2 separate regions of the Homo sapiens genome follow, and region 2 is linked to region 1. Evidence: fine-mapped expression QTL. A gene starts in region 1. The other region holds a variant in brackets. All regions are shown on one strand. Distances are from middle to middle. Region 1 holds the start of DNAAF3 (dynein axonemal assembly factor 3). Region 2 has its middle 33 kb from the start of LILRA2.

Evidence for each region. PIP is the estimated chance that this variant, and not a neighbour inherited with it, causes the effect.
Region 2: its variant is the best candidate, but not a certain one, in a credible set for the expression of DNAAF3 in uterus (GTEx, PIP 0.86).

What each region holds. Positions count from the first base shown.
Region 1 is chr19:55,164,882-55,167,789 of GRCh38, forward strand. DNAAF3 (dynein axonemal assembly factor 3) reads right to left here and starts at 1,732. Exons shown (of 12, transcript NM_001256715.2): 1 at 1,642-1,732; 2 at 1,448-1,536; 3 at 977-1,119; 4 at 489-582. The coding sequence starts at 1,532. DNAAF3-AS1 (DNAAF3 antisense RNA 1) reads left to right here. Exons shown (of 4, transcript XR_007067345.1): 4 at 938-2,023. It overlaps LOC124904795 (small nucleolar RNA U13), which reads left to right and starts at 2,290; the gene lies at 2,290-2,393. RefSeq lists a silencer at 1,112-1,343.
Region 2 is chr19:54,539,014-54,541,921 of GRCh38, forward strand. It overlaps the pseudogene KIR3DX1. Among named protein-coding and RNA genes, the nearest start is that of LILRA2, 33 kb to the right of the region's middle. The variant C/T (reference allele first, on the strand shown) is at 1,238.

The sequences.
Region 1 (2,908 bases):
AGGAGGAGCTGAGGCTCTAAGATGGCAAATTACATCAGAGGGGACCATCATCAATAAATATATTGGATTTTTTTTTTCATCAGAGGTACCACACTGGAAAATACCAAACATTTTTGGTTTTTAGATGGAGTTTCGCTCTCTTTTTTTTTTTTTTTTTTTTTTTTTTGAGACGGAGTCTCGCTCTGTCACCCTGGCTGGAGTGCAGTGGCGCGATCTCAGCTCACTGCAAGCTCCGCCTGCCGGGTTCACGCCATTCTCCTGCCTCGGCCTCCCAAAGTGCTGGGATTAACAGGCGTGAGCCACCGCGCCCGGCCGGAGTTTCGCTCTTGTTGCCTAGGCTGGAGTGCAATGGCGCGATCTCGGCTCACTGTAACCTCCGCCTCCCAGGAAAATAACCAAACTTTTTAATTGTACCATTGAAATGCCAGAATCCCTCTAGGGAGGGGGAGGAGACCAGCGGTCAGAATGCCTGGGTCCTAGCAACAGACCTTGCAGCCCCATCTTCTCCGGTTCCTCCAGGGCTAGGCTGAAGATCAGCATGTGTCGGGCCACAGCTTCCAGATTATTCTCCAGCACAAAGAACTAGAAGGATGGACAGGGCAGAATAATTCTGAGACCTGTTTGCCTGGGTCCTAGGAGACCCAGGAGAGCAGGCCCTCAGCTCTCTCCTTCCACACACCCGAGTTCTGTACACCAGCCTCTTCCTTCAAACACAGAAGTCTGTGTCCCCAGAGCTCTCTTCCCTTCCATTACTCAGAAGACCTCATCCTCGAGCTCTTCCCCACTATAGAACCCAGGAGTTCCAAACCCCAGCCCCTTCCTTCCCCCAAGACGCATCGGTTCGCTCCCAGCTTCTGCCTCCCTCAGATCTAGGAGTCTCCAGCCCCTTCATTCCTGGACCTGAGGTTTTAGAATTTCAATCCCTTCCTCCCTCAAGGACTCGGGAATCTGGGCTCTCATCTTCATCCCAGCTCACGTTGAACCTCCTGCGAGGCCAGAACTTCGCTCGGGACAGGGTCCGCAGCAGGTGCCGTCCATCCACAGAGCCCAGAAGCAGCACATCTAGCTCGGGGTTGCTGTGCACTGTATCGGCCTGGGAGTCTGGGTCCACAGGAGGACCTGGCAAGATGACAGCTGGCTGGGGCACCATGGTGGTTGGCAGAGCGTCCACCGTAGCATCCCCTATAAAAAATGGACTACAAATCCCAGTAGGCGTTCCGCCCGTGGCCTAGGTTCTAAGGGGAGGTGTTTCCTCTGAGTATTCTGGGATTCGCAGTCCGCAGACAGGACCTCGGGGCTGCCCCTGGGAGCGCGCCCTCTGCCGCTGGAGCGTTGGAGAACGTTAGCGCCCCCCTTGCCACCGACGCTGGGACTACGAGCTCTAAAAGGCCGTCTGCTCAGGCTGGGAAGGCAGACGGTGTATCAGACCTTGCGTGCTGGGACTCACTTTCAGCCTGCAGGTCCAGCGCCGGGGACAGGCCCCACCAGGACACGGAGCCGAAGCCGCTGCCGGAGCCGGCAGGTGTGGTCATCACCCTGCGGAAAAGACATTCTGGGAATCGCACACATTGCCCGCCCCGCTCCCCTCTCACCGCCCCTCACTTCTCGCCCCTTTGCCTCCACATGATACCTTGCCCACACCTTTATCCTCCAAATATCCCGGGACGCCCCTTCCTCTCTGCTCAGTGCAGCACTGTGGACCCGCGGCACTCCACAACCGCTGCCCAGAGTCCCCGCCCTTTTCGAGGAATCAAGCAATGGAAGCATGTGGGATGGGACCACAGCGAGCAACTGACCAATGAGAGTGAGCGAGGCCCGCCCTCTACAAACTTTTGGCCAATGGGAGCACTGAGGGCCAGCCTTCCCCCACACCTAGGAGAAGAGGGCGTGTGGACGCGGTTGTCATGACGACGGCGCCGGCGGGGGAAGGGGCGGTGCTAGAACAGGTTGGGGCGGAGTCAGGGTCGGTCCAAATTTCTGGAATGGGGGAGGCCTGGGCTGATTAAAATTGAGAGTGAAGGGAGCTTAATCTTATTTCTTGTTTTTTGTTTTTTTGTTTTCTTCATATGCCTTTGCTCATACGTAACGGAATTTTCATCAATTCAAATAAAGTGAAGTGTCTAGACTTTAGATGGCAGGCTTCTGAGCCCGCTCCCCGCCCCAGCACAACGTGGGCTCTACCACACAGAACAGCCCACAGGTGGGACACTGATGTGCAGGTCATTAAAAATTCAGGGATTTGTGAGCTGGTTATTGTTACACGAAGCCATAATTTAAACTTACAGCTAGATCCTTTTGTAGTTTCTAAGCGGGATGATTGGGTGTTCACGCGCATGCGTGAGATGTGCCTCCCTCAAACCTTGTTACGACATCGGCACATTACTCTTCTGACATGAACAAAAAAATTACAGGTAAATTCTGTAATCGTACAGTTAAATCAACTGCATTAAAATAAGGGTAAGTCGGCCGGGCGCTGTGGCCACGCCTGTGATCCCAACACTTTGGGAGGTCAAGGTGGGCAGATAACTTGAGGTCAGAAGTTGGAGACCAGTCTGGCCAACATGGTGAAACCGCGCCTCGACCTTAAAAAATACAAAAATTAACCGGGCGTGGTGGCACGCACCTGTAATCCCAGCTACTCCGGAGGCTGAGGCAGGAGAGTCTGTTGAACCTGGGAGGCAGAGGTTGCAGTGAACTGAGATCGCGCCTCTGAACTCCAGCCTGGGCGACAGAGCAAGACTCTGTCTCAAAAAAAAAAAAAAGAAAAACCAAAGTCTGAATGAGGCACATCTCTAGATCACCCCAGCACCCAGCACTGGGCTCAGCGCCCAAGGGGACTTGGCTCTCTGCCTCCTCTCCTTGCCCAGACACATGAGCTTAGACCAGTCACCCTTTCTGAGCCTCAGTC
Region 2 (2,908 bases), 630 kb before region 1:
CGCAGGGCTCACAACTGTAATCCCAGCACTTTGGGAGGCTGAGGCGGGCAGATCACAAGGTCAAGAGATCGAGCTGTTCCTGGTCAACATGGTAAAACCCTGTCTCTACTAAAAATACAAAAATTAGCTGGGCGTAGTGGTGCATGTCTGTGGTCCCAGCTACTCCAGAGGCTGAGGCAGGAGAATTGTTTGAACCCGGGAGGCGGAAGTTGCAGTGAGCCGAGATTATGCCACTGCACTCCAGCTTGGGCGACAGGACGAGACTCCGTCTCAAAAAAAAAAAAAAATTCAACATGGCAATGCCTTGTGTGTGTTCACAGCACCAGTGAGGCTGACATGCCGGGGGAGAGGGGTGGAGCTGAGAGAGGAGGACAGGGACCAACTTGTGTGAACGTTTCTCGTTTTTAAAATGTTTAATTTTTGTGGGTACCTAGTAGGTGTGTATATTTATCAGGCGCATGAGATGTTTTGATACAGGCATGAAATGTGAAATAAGCACATCATGGAGGTTAAGGCATCCATCCCCTCAAGCATTTATTCTTTGAGTTACAAACAATTTAATTAAGATTTTTTTTTTTTTTTTGAGATGGAGTCTTGCTCTGTCACCCAGACTGGAGTGCATTGGCGCGCTTTCCGCTCACTGCAACCTCTGTCTCCTGGGTTCAAGCAGTTCTCCTGCCTCAGCCTCCCAAGTAGCTGGGATTACAGGTGTACGCCACCATGCCTGGCTAACTTTTTGTATTTTAGTAGAGACAGGGTTTCAACATGTTGTCCAGGCTGGTCTCAAACACCTGAGCTCAGGTGATCTGCCCGCCTCAGTCTCCCAAAGTCTTAGGAGTACAGGTGTGAGCCACCATGCCTGGCCCCAATTATGCTTTTTATTTTAAAATGTACAGTAAAGTTCTTATTGACTAGAGCCAGCCTGTTGGTGCTACCAAGTGAGGGTTTCTAAGCAACAGTAAAGAGTTTGGATTTTATTCCAATAAAGAGGTGAAGACAAGTTTTGTTTTGTTTTTTTTTCAGAGTCTTACTCTGTCTCCAGGCTGGAGTGCAGTGGCGTGATCTCGGCTCACTGCAACCTCTGCCTCCCGGGTTCAAGTGATTCTCCTGCCTTAGCCTCCTGAGTAGCTGGGATTATAGGCACCCACCACCATACCCGACTAATTTTTGTATTTTTAGTAGAGACCAGGTTTCACCATGTTGGCCAGGATGGTCTCGATCTCTTGACCTTGTGATC[C/T]GCCTGCCTTGGCCTCCCAAAGTGCTGGGATTACAGGTGTGAGCCACTGTGCCCAGCCGTTTTTTTTTTTCTTTTTTTTTGAGACAGAGTCTTGCTCTGTTGCCCAGGCTGAAGTGCAATGGCGTGATCTTGGCTCACTGCAACCTCCGCCTCCTGGGTTCAAGCGATTCTCCTGCCTCAGCCTCCTGAGTAGCTGGGATTACAGGGGGCCCGCCACCAAGCCTGGCTAATTTTTGTATTTTTAGTAGAGACAGGGTTTCACCATGTTGGCCAGGCTGGTCTTGAACTCCTGACTTCAGGTGATCCACCCACCTTGACCTCCCAAAGTGCTGGGATTACACGCATGAGCCACTGTGCCTGGCCGAAGACAAAGGTTTTAGTCAGAAACGTGTCATGATCCACATTCTATTTTAGAGATAGCAATCGGCCGATGTGAATAGTGTTTATTACAGGGAGGCAGGAGTGGAAGCCAGGAGCCTGGTGGGGCTGTGACATCCTTGTAGAGGACACTCATGGCAGCTTAGATGTGCTGGGGCTGGAGAAGGAGTTGAGCAGGTGGATTCAGGAGAGGCTCAGAGCTGGAGTCACTAAGAGGGAGAGTTTGGAAACTTGTTCCAGTATTTCTCAGTGCATGACCTGGGGCACGCTCATTTCTCTCTGAGCCTCTGATTCCATTGATGGCAACTCATACTTGGGCTATCAGAGAAGTAGCAACTCAGCAGGGAGCCTTATGGGGGAACGAGACATAGTCCTTGAAAGAGAAAAGATTATAATCAGACACTTGGGCTCAATGGATGGCTCTGCTAGTTATGGTCACTCATCTTGGAAAGCATCCGTTTTCTTTTCTTTTCTTTTTTCTTTTGTTTTCTTCTTTTTGTTTGAGCCAGAGTCTCTCTGTGTTGCCCAGGCTGGAGTGCAGTGGTATGAAACTGGCTTACTGCAATGTCCCAGTTTCAAGTGATTCTCCTGCCTCAGCCTCCCAAGTAGCTGGGATTACAGGTGTCTGCCACCACGCCCGGCTAATTTTTGTATTTTTAGTAGAGACAGGTTTCACTATGTTGGTCAGGCTGGTTTTGAACTCCTGAACTCCAGTGATCAGCCTGTCTGTGCCTCCCAAAGTGCTGGGATTACAGGCATGAGCCATGGCACCTGGCCAAAGCATCCAAGTTGTTGGATAGAATATTGGGCTAATGATGCCTCCCTCCTTATGGAAAAAAAAAAAGTAGGAAAGAGAAGAAAGAAAAGCTTCCCAAGTTGAATGTCTAGAAGTAGCAGACATGTCTAGAATTGAGCCCAAGAGTACGGCTGGCTACAGTCTTTTCTCTTTCAAGGACTATATCATGGATGAGAGAGTGATGAGATGTGTCCACACATGTGGAAGTCCTCCCACCACCTCTCAGCATGGGTCCTGGTACGGAGGGTATGCTCCTATGTGACATAGCCTGTGCCCCCTCCCCTTTTTCTCTCCTGAATCCTCCACCCACCTGCTCTTACTCATTACTCAGAAAAACACCAACATTGTTTGGAGCAAGTTCAATTCTCAGAAACTGGCATGAGAGTCATCCTCTGGCCACCTCTATCTCCATTCTCAGAAAGTGTATTTGTCCTGGGCTGAGAAGGGACGAGGGAAATGGTATTCAGCTATGGTACATGCAGAGGGTTTCCTTTGTC